2 separate regions of the Homo sapiens genome follow, and region 2 is linked to region 1. Evidence: fine-mapped expression QTL. A gene starts in region 1. The other region holds a variant in brackets. All regions are shown on one strand. Distances are from middle to middle. Region 1 holds the start of PRPS2 (phosphoribosyl pyrophosphate synthetase 2). Region 2 overlaps PRPS2 (phosphoribosyl pyrophosphate synthetase 2).

Region 1 (5,381 bases):
GGGAAATTTCTTCCGTTTCTCAGCCCTAAAATAGTCAGGGATAAATTCACTCAGCAAATACTTAGACTTCTTACTATATACAAAGAACTTGGCTAGATGATGTGGGAAATAGAAGACGTGAAACTGTTCATAAATTCAAATCATTGTTTTACCGTTAATCTCTATCCATGAGTCAATGAAGATAGAAATCAACAATAGAAAATATCTCATCATTTTAATTTTTTCCACTAACATTTTATCTTAAGATAATGTATATTTTATAAACGGTCTGAGACCCAGATCACATATGCACAGAGTATATGTTCTTTTTCTCTTCTAAGTCTTGGGTCTTTGAACAAGTGTTCCATTTTTCCAGAGGCTCCCCAACTTCAAATGTTGTTCAAGAAGTGCACTGTGGTAGACAGTTGGTGGACAGTACTCATGCCCTCCAGTTGTCCCATACCATGTTGACAGCTGGTCTTGGCCATGTAACTTGCTTTGGTCAATGAGACATTAGCAAGCAAGTTAAAAACAGAGGTTTGATAAGCACTTGCTCATTGAGACTTATCTTCTTGGAACACTCCTTGGAACCTTGCAGCCATGCCGTAAGGAAGCCCAAACAACCATGAAGAAAGGCCCACATGGAGGAGAGAAGGGCCAGGGGTTCTTTCAAACTAGTGATTCTCAACCTGTGGTGATTTTGCTCCTTGTAGGACATTTGGCAATGTCTGGGGACACTTTTGGTTGTCACAGTGGTGGATAGGTGCTACTGGCATCTAGTGGGTAGAGGCAAGGGAGGCTGCTAAACAATCTGCAATGCACAGGACAGTCCCACAACAAAGAATTACCCAGCCTAAATATCAGCTGTGCTGAGGTTCAGAAACCTGCTCTAGACCAATGTTTCCCACAACCTGGCTCCTATGGATCAAGGATAAAGGCATTTGGGAGAGAAAGTTTTCACACTTAAATAAAATTATCTGTAGCTGCTCATTTACAAGTGACAGCTTTCTGAACAGTCTGTGACTCATGATGATTTTTCAATGATTCCCATTAGTATTCTCATCAACCCCAATGGCACATTTCACCTTGTTTACATTTAGCATTTAAGCAGAGTAACTCATCAAACTATTGAACCAACAATCATTGTATTAGTTGCCCCAACTGAGATATTGTTTCTCCTTGGTGCTATCAAGTCCATGGTTTGTCACAATTCAATCCGAGCTTCCAAATCTGCAGCCATTTACCCACCCAAAGACCAGGGGCTTTAACTTTTACTGTTTTATAGTCCATCAGCTTTGGTTCTGTGTTACCAAAGAACCACAGCCCCATCATGCTAAGAGGATGCCACTTTCCCTTTGAGAAGAGCATCTATATATTTAGAAGAAACCATTATTAGTCAATTTTATCTATGAGAGAAATATTAAGAATATAAAAATTATAGTAATTTGCTGATAGTAAATTTTATTAGAAGAGTTTAAATATAACTACATTAGCAGACTCAATAAAAATTTTAAACATAGTGGGTCAAGTATAAATCTCATTGCTATGGTAATTAGCTGTGAAATACATAGATAATAAACCATTGCAGATAGGGGTTTTTGTTTGTTTTCTCACATAATAGGGCACATATGCATCTCTAGGCGGAATGAAAAAGGGCCAGAAATGCTGCTAAAATTGTCAGTTTGAATAACTTTTTGATAGGCTGGCAGATACAAAAGTTTACAAGAAACACTCGATGTGCCAAGTAATCTCCTTGCAAAGTACAAGGACCCAGATGAAAAATCCCAATGATGCGAATCATCCCTGTAATCTCCCAAATCCCATTATGAAGTCTGATTAGAGTAGGCTACAACCCAATTGCAAGTGGGCTTTGCTGTTGATGGAGAGCCAATTCGTGGCAAACATTAGTAAAACCAAGCCATTTATCTACCCGGTTGAATCAGCCTTTGTTGAGGAGTGTGAAACTGTGACCAGCATCACCAACCAGCCCTCTATAGACAGGGACTGCTTTCCTTTCTCCTACACTTGGTTTGTGCCCTGAAGTTGGCTCTGGTACTGCATTGGCATCTTGAGAAAACCTTTTTGCTGGTTTCTAGCAGGAAAGAGAGGAAGGAGGCCCTGACTCCAGGGATGTGGAGGGACTGAGCTGGATTGTCTAGGGAGATCTGTGTTCCTGGGATCAGGCCCTTGAGCACCCAACAGGCAGAAGGTTGTGAAGTGCCCCAAGGACCATCACATCTACCGAAAAATGGTGAATCTGGGGGACTTGGTTTGATCCAGTGAGCCACCAAGAGCAATACTTCCCCTCAGCCTGTGATGAGGACTCACATAGTGGTTGGATTTTTTAAGGACACATGGTGCAGGGGCAACTCTGTAGTTCAGGGGTCATCAAGTTTGAACTATGAGGGACCACATGGCCAATATTTACATTTTGCAGACCAAGCAAGAAAAGGGAAGATATTACGTAGGAACTTACATAACAAGAGAGAAAAAATTGTCACAATGTTTTTATTGATATAATCCAAAATACGGTAATATTTGAGTACAATTATTTGCAACTCACATCTATTAATGAGAGAAAAGGAATTCTTTTGCGGGGGGGATATTTCTCTTAATTGGAGTTCAAAGGCGGTGTCTGCTATCATCACATAAAGTGCAAATGTTCATGTATGAAAACCATGCTTAGCTCTCTGGTACAAACACAGGGAGCTCTCGCGATCTGGCCCATAGGCTGTAGTTTGCAGACCCTTGCTATAGCTGAACACCAGTCGCCCACACTGGGTTTGCGGTGTTCCGGGGTGGGAAGTCGCTCCGGGCTGCGAAGCACCTCGAGGGATCCCCCCGGCCCGAACTCTCCCTCTGTGCCCAGCTAACCGCGGTTCATTGGCTCTCCCCGCGAGGCAGGTCTGGAAGATCAAGAATGAAGCTCGGAGCTCTCTCGCGGAGCAAGGACACCTTCGGGCTTCAGGACCACCCAGGGCGTCCAAAACTGCTGCCAGGGCTGTGCCCCCGCCCCCCGGCACTTTCCAGCTCCCCCTCCACGCCCGCTCTTCCTCCCTCTCTGCCCCCTCTAGCTCCTCCTCCGGCTCCTCCCCCTCCGCTCCTCCCCTTCCCTACATCTAGCCGCCGCGCTTTCCCGCTCCCGCAGCAGCAGCCTCCCGCGTCGCTGTCGCTGTTGCCTCCGCCACCTCCTCCGCCGCCGCGCGCCCCTCGGAGTTCCGCGCCCCACCATGCCCAACATCGTGCTGTTCAGCGGCAGCTCGCATCAGGACCTGTCCCAGCGCGTGGCCGACCGCCTGGGCCTGGAGCTGGGCAAGGTGGTCACGAAGAAGTTCAGCAACCAGGAGACCAGGTGGGGGCCGCGCCGGCGGCCGGGCTAGGGAGAGCGCTGGGCACGCGGCTGCGGGGCCGGGTTGGGGGCCGGCGCCTGCCCGGGCCACCTCCGCGGACGCCGCGCTCCCCCTTCCGGGGCGGGACGGTGGCAACGCGGCCTCCGCGCCCCCGCGCCCGCGCCTGCGAAGAAACCGAGGCGGGGCGCCGCGCGTCCCGATGCGCGCCTCGGCTGTGCCCCCGGTTGCAGGGCCTCCGGTCCTGGGACCGCGGCGACCCGGCGGTCCCGAGCCGCTCCCGGCCTCCCAGCGGTGCCGCCCGGCCTGGCGTCCCCAGCCCGGAAGGGAGACGTCTGGGCGGTCACAGACCGTCGGGGAGAGAGTGGGCGCAGCGGGCGGGAACCGCATCGGGTCAGCGCGCGGTGGAGAGACGTCCTGGGTTGGCTGGTCCCAGTTTCCGCGTCCCTACAAAGCTGAACCTCAGACCAGTGCGTGCGACTAAAGGTTTCCCCCCGTCCCCAACTCTGGTTGCACGCTGGGTTTACCTGGGGACGGTCCGAACGCTGCTTCCCCCGACCTGCCCCCAAGGGTTTGATCCAACGGGCGGAGGATCAGCGATTTTACAAGCTTCCCTGGCTTCTCCTGAGCAGCCAGGGCGCAGACCACTGCGTTATCCAGAGGGTGCAGTTGTGCCAAGGTTTGAAAGACTGTGAGAACCCCAGGACGCACGTGCTGGGCTCCCCTCTGCTCCCACTACTCTTGCTGCTTTAAAGATGATGGACTTTCAGCTTCCTTCTTGTTCTAGGACTCTGCTGTGTCCAGCAACAACGCCGTGATTCGACTGTAACTTTCACCCATTTCTCAAGTCCAGGAGAGCCTCAGGTGGTGGCCATCCTCGGAAGCTGACCTGGGGGGCTCCTTTGTCTATCTGCCTGAGTCCACACAGCTCCTTGACTCATTTCAAATTGGTCTCATTTTTCCCCCTTCTTCCTCCAATGTCTAGTACCGTTAACTGTCCACAGTTACTGATAATTTTTATATCTTTGGCAAAGGTTCAATTTTACCAACATTTTCTAGAAATGGTGTTGGAACAGTTGGACACCCATATGCCAAAAAATATGAACTTCCATCCATACTTTTCACCATTTGTAAAAATTAACTTTGAAGTGGATCATAGACCTAATTGTAAAATCTAGAACTATAAAATTTCTAGCAGAAAATCTTGACTTGGGGTTAGGCAAAAATTTCTTAAGGAGGAGTTATGTTAATACTGATGGGGAAGATGCTATATTTTGGCAAGTCAGCTTTTTAGGATATGTGAATCTTACGTGACTTCTTCCAGGTGGCAAATTCCAGTTATGGCTCCGATGATAATATAAGCGAAGAAACATTGTGAATGAGTGGCAGGTGGACTTTGGCTAAAGAATTCCACTCTGCAGTGTTTAATGCAGAAGTCTGAGAGGATGGTCTAGGGCTCTGGAGAAGGATAGAGCTAGGTTTGAGTGTTGCAGTATTTTGCCAGTCTTGTTCAAGTTTCAGTCGCTGTAAGAACACGAGAAGAAGAATAGTTTTTGTTCAGAAGGTGTCGTCATATAAGTAAAGGAGAAATTTGTTGATGAAGTAAATTTTGAAAGCAAATATGTTGCCCTTCCAGGTACTCAGTGCAGCATGATCTTTTGCTAAGGAGCATGGTTAATCTAGATCAGTTCACTGCTAAGTCAGTGTTGAGTTTCTCCTAAAAATACCACATGTGCCACTGGGCAAAACTCACTCAGACACTGAAGTATGATTGTTTATACATTTGGTTCAAATATAAAGCAGACTCACTTTTATTTTGTTTTTGGCATTTTATAACCATCACTTGATAATTAGAAATCGTGGGACCTCAAAAACCACTCAGCATGAAGTTTGGGAATTGCCTATATAGCTACATTTTATGTTTTTAATGTATAGAGTATAAAAGGTTCACTGCCTGACTTTTCTCTTTTCCATGAACTGTACAAGTACAGAGCTTAATTTTTATAAACAGCCCTCTCTGGACCAGTTACTGTGCTAGGAATCCAGCTTTTAGCT
Region 2 (5,381 bases), 35 kb after region 1:
AAGCCAACTGACTTAAAGGTAATCATTTCAGCTAAGATTAAATTTAAAGCCTAAGAATGTATAGAGCTAGTTTTAAAATAATGATCTCAGATTTTTAAAAAGGATATAGGAACCTGCATTGTCATTCTCTGAATTAAGAACTGATGGTTTCTATCATTATTTAGCCCCACCTTTGTATTTTAAAATCCTTCAGAATACATTTATGAACCAATGCGACTGGACTTAGCCACACACAATGGAAATTCAGACCTTGACTATTTGGTGTTTCCAGTTCACAAAGGTGATGAAGACTGTCTTGGGAGCAGCTTAATCCCAAAATTTGTACATTTCTTGCTGCTCCTGGCGTGGAAACTTAAGTGAGACCACCAAATACATTGGTCCTGTCCAATTCTACTGAATGGGGGTGGACCTGGCATTTATCTGGCCAAAAACAGGAGCCAGAGAAATATGAATATACCAAAGTTGTTTGTTTAGCCTCCAACTTAAATTACATTAGTCAACTTATAGATACTCATATGATCACTTTTCTTTTTAGATACTACATCAACTAGATTCAGGAGTATATCATTTGCAGTGCTTGTATTGGTTTAAAATGTAAGATTTTAAGATCCTCTAACACTGTACTAAAACATTTCAATAAAATCATTCTGACTGCGTTCATAGTTTGTATGTATCATTGTGGAGTAATATGTTTTGACGGAGTGATGTGTTGCAGTACCTGAAAATGTTTGCTACTTTACGATTATAGGCCAGCATACAAAATTACAGAAAAGCCAGAAGTTAATTGATGTCAGCTGTTTTCCATTTTGAAGGTGTTTCTTCCTGAAGAACTTACCAGCAATCGCCTTTCCTCAAAGCGTAACAGCTGTGCCACATAAGGTGTCCACGTTGTTAATTCCACATGTTTCCTATAAAATTAAAGATGGTACAGTGTGTTCACGCATCAGAGTAGTGATGTTCAATATCCATCTATTGGAGCAAACCAAACTTAAATGTAGGCTGCATAAAACTTGTTCATATTCATTGATTTCAGAAGCACCGAGGAGGATTCCTGTCCCCATAGAACAGCCTGTTCAGTGATACTTCAAACTACTCTCGTGAGCGCAAAGTCAAGTCATAATTACGTTCCCCTGGTGAAGCTCAGCTGTAAAGTATGTGTAACACTAAGAATGGCAACATGGTGTCTTGAAGTCACAGTGAAATATGAAGAATTACATCCAGGTCCATCTGAGAAAAAAGGTGATCACAGTGTGAGAGAACATGATAGAATGTACTAGAAAGGAGGGAAGTGAAGGAGAAGTGAAAGCCAAAGACACTTCATCAGCTTTACAATTGCACTTAATAATGCTGCCACACCTCTTCAGAGACGTTTCATTTCCTATGGCATGTCCTATCTAATCCCCTAGCTGAACTACAGGGGACAGGGAAGTAGTGAAGGGAAAGATGGAGTACTAAGGCGTGCAGAGGTTGGAATCACGCTGGGGATACCAGGAAGGGCTCGGTGATCACCATTAGACGGTTCACGTCGGAATTTTCCAGAACCCTATGGTGTGTTCCAGTGTGGACTGACGCAGGACAGCAGAGGGCGTTTGGTACATGATGTGTTTGAGCAAGGATGTGCCAGGGAAGATGGGAGTTAGGGGCTGAAACATACTCAGCTATCCTGTATCTAAATTGCGTGAAATCAACAGGGCTCCTCCTTCTCATTACCAATATTTATCTTCCTGATTTATCTCCCTGTGCCCCAGGAACACATCCCTCCACCTTTTTTCTGCCCCTGCTTTCCAAGATCACATCCTGGGTGGTTTCCTTTATTGCAGTCTTTGAGCTCTGTTTCCTATTCTGAAAGCATAATGCCCAGGAACACAGACTTCACCACTTACCGGAGTTTAAAAACCAACAGCAACAACGACCTTGGGCTGGTTGCTTAACCCCTATGCCTCAGTTTCCTTACATGTGAGATGGGGATAATAAATGAGACGTTATGTGTAAAGTGTTTAGAATTGCTTGGTTTGTACATTAACTTCAGTTTTTAGAGTGAGCCTCCTGAAACTCCCCTAGAAAGAATGTAAGGTATGAAGAGGCAAGATTTTCATGCATTTTCTAGGTGTTCATCCTAGAGGGGAACA[G/C]ACTGCCCTCCTGCCATTTTAGAAGGGCTACATTGTCTTGGCATGTGACTGCCTCAGTGAAGGGTAGCATTTAGGTGACAAATAGTTGCATGTTAAAAAAAAAAAAAAAAAAAAAACTTGATTATGCTGAAAGTAGTGGTTCTACCAGCATGTCCCGTGGTTCCAGCGCTGGTTTTGCCCACCACATTAACATTTTTTTCGCCCGAGGGCCAGCACTACCAAGTAGAATATGCATATGCTTTTAAGGCTATTAACCTGGGTGGCCTTCCATCAGTATTTGTCAGAGGAAAAGACTGCTGTAATTATCATACAGAAGAAATGCTTGACAAATTATCGGATTCCAGCACAGTGACTCACTTACTCAAAATAACTGAAAACATTGGCTGTCACTGTGATGACCGGAATGACAGAGGTACAGAGGGCACGCTATGGGGCAGCTAACTGGAAATACAAGTACGGCTATGAGATTCCTGTGGACATTCTGTGTGGAATTGCTGATACTACTCAGAATGCTACAATGAGGTCTCTTGGTTGTATGATTTTCATTGGTATAGATGAAGAACAAGGCCCTCAGGTGTGAAAGTATGATCCTGCAGGTTACTGCTGTGATTTAAAGCCACTGCAGCAGGAGTTAAACAAACTGAGTTAACCAGCTTCCTTGAAAAAAAAAAGTGGGCCGGGTGCGGTGGCTCACGCCTGTAATCCCAGCACTTTGGGAGGCCGAGGCGGGTGGATCACCAGGTCAGGAGATCGAGACCATCCTGGCTAACACGGTGAAACCCAGTCTCTACTAAAAGTACAAAAAATTAGCCGGGCGAGGTGGCGGGCGCCTGTAGTCCCAACTACTCTGGAGGCTGAGGCAGGAGAATGGCGTGAGCCCGGGGGGCGGAGCCTGCAGTGAGCCGAGATCGCGCCACTGCACTCCAGCCTGGGCGACAGAGCGAGACTCCGTCTCAGAAAAAAAAAAAAAAAAAAAAGTGCAAAAGAAATTTGATTGGACATTTGAACAGACAGTGGAAACTGCAATTACATGCCTGTCTACTGTTCTATCAATTGATTTCAAACCTTCAGAAATAGAAGTTGGAGTAGTGACAGTTGAAAATCCTAAAGTCGGGATTCTTACAGAAGCAGAGATTGATGCACTCACATTGTTGTTAGTTTACCAAATCCATGATGCCACTTACCTGTGTGTTTGGTAACAAAAAAAACAACATTATGGAGGTCCCTGGATTGAAAAAGGAGCCTCTCCCACTCCTCCTACTACTGAATTGATTAGGACTCTATAAATAAAAGCAATGCTTTTGGTATCTCAGCATTTTAGGAGGCCAAGGCAGGTGCATCACCTGAGATCAGGAGTTTGAGACCAGCCTGGCCAACATAGTGAAACCCCATCTCTACTAAAAAATACAAAAATTAGTCAGGCATGGTGGCGCATGCCTGTAATCCCAGCCACTTGGAGGCTGAGGCATGAGAATCACTTGAACCTGGGAGGCAGAGGTTGCAGTGAGCCATGATCACACCACTGCACTCCAGCCTGGGCAACAGAGCAAGACTGTCTCAAACAACAACAACAGCAACAACTTTCAGCTGAGTGCCGTGGTGCATTCTTGTAATCCCAGCTACACAGAAGGCTGAGGCAGTAGGATTGCTTGAGCCCAGGAATTTGAGACTGGCCTGGGCAACATAGAGAAACCCCGTCTCTTAAAAACAACAACAATACTTCCAGTGGGCTGTAGAAACAACAGGTAGGAATGAATGTCATGTGATTATAGAGATGGTAATCAATTGAGGTCATTTACAACAACCTGATTTCATTGTAGCCCTCATTCACCATCCATCCCATCATAAATACAACCAAAAGTGGTGCCCAATATAAATGGGAAGAACAGTCTTCACTATCCTAACAGCCGAGTTCTGTGGCCAAAAGAAAACCTGGCTGAATGAATTTTACATTTTAAGAGAGTGATAAAAAAAGAGAATAGGAAAGTGAAAAACATAATGCAGTGGAAAATGCCCTAAATTGGAAGTGTGGCGATCTAGATTCTGGTTCCTGATATGCTGCTAGCAAGCTGGGTGACCTTGGGAAAAATGTGTACACCACTCTGGGTATGAGCATCTTTCTGCAAAAATTAGAGGAAAGATGATTGCAGAAGTCCCCAGCAGTTTTAATAGGCAATGCCATTTATGCTAGATGTAGTTGGAATAGTTCTAACTGAAGGCACAGATGGTTGCTCTCAATAGGGTGACCAACTTGTCTTGGTTTGCGTGGGACTTTTCTCGATTTAGCCCTGAAAGACCTATATCTTAGGAAACCCCTCAGTCCTGGGCAAACCAGGACGTTTGGTCTCCCGTTCCCTCTTCTAAGGTGGATAGTTCTGCATCCCCGGCACTACCTTGGTAAGGAATCCCACGAGCATGGCTTTGATCTTGTGCTGGTTGCAAAAACAAGCAGGCTATATGATGAGCCCAACAATGTGCAGGGCACCTGTGGTATCACAGGTCTTTTAAAATCTGTTCAACTAACTATAGAAGCTCAAGAGCTGTAGTCACAAAATCAGAGAGAAAAAGCAGGGGCACCTTTAGAAAACACCTTCAAGCCTGGCTTGATTGCCAGTCCTTTGGCACAGCTACCTTTAACACCATAAGTGGTCTTCAGAGACCCCAGGGAACAGTCCAGGCAGAAGGCAGAGTGCTCTGAAGGTTACCTGATGTACGTTGTCCTTCCGCACATTGAGAGATTCTTAACATTTGTGAGGGCATGGCCATCTGTGTCTGAGGACGTATGATGCTCTGATTTTCCCTACACAAGGAGTGCTAAATCTAGTATTTTCTTGCATGGAAGCTAAGACTGACCATGAATTATGGACATATTTTAAGAACTAAAACTGAACACGTCACTCTTTAAAATCATCCTAATGATTATTTCTGGGCATATTTTGATGTACATTTACCATAGGATAAGCTCAGTATGTGCCATTGACATTTACTCACCCAAGGAACCAAGGAGCGACCCTAAATTTCTTTTCTTTTTCTTCCTTTCCTTCCTTCCTTCCTTCCTTCCTTCCTTCCTTCCTTCCTCTCTCTCTCTCTTTCTTTGTCTCTCTCTTTCCTGTTTTTTTTGAGACAGAAGGTCTCACTATATTGCTCAGGCTGGTCTTGAACTCATAGTATCAAGCAATCCTCCTGCCTCAGCCTCCAAGTAGCTGGAACTACAGGTGTGCACCACCATGCCTGGTGCAACCCTAAATTCCT

What was found. PIP is the estimated chance that this variant, and not a neighbour inherited with it, causes the effect. A credible set is the group of variants that fine-mapping cannot tell apart.
Region 2: its variant is the best candidate, but not a certain one, in a credible set for the expression of PRPS2 in whole blood (TOPMed, PIP 0.62).

What each region holds. Positions count from the first base shown.
Region 1 is chrX:12,788,289-12,793,669 of GRCh38, forward strand. It overlaps PRPS2 (phosphoribosyl pyrophosphate synthetase 2), which reads left to right and starts at 3,124. Exons shown (of 7, transcript NM_002765.5): 1 at 3,124-3,331. The coding sequence starts at 3,210. RefSeq lists a silencer at 3,380-3,829.
Region 2 is chrX:12,823,563-12,828,943 of GRCh38, forward strand. It overlaps PRPS2 (phosphoribosyl pyrophosphate synthetase 2), which reads left to right. Exons shown (of 7, transcript NM_002765.5): 7 at 1-660. It also overlaps the pseudogene PSMA6P2. Among named protein-coding and RNA genes, the nearest start is that of PRPS2, 35 kb to the left of the region's middle. The variant G/C (reference allele first, on the strand shown) is at 2,130.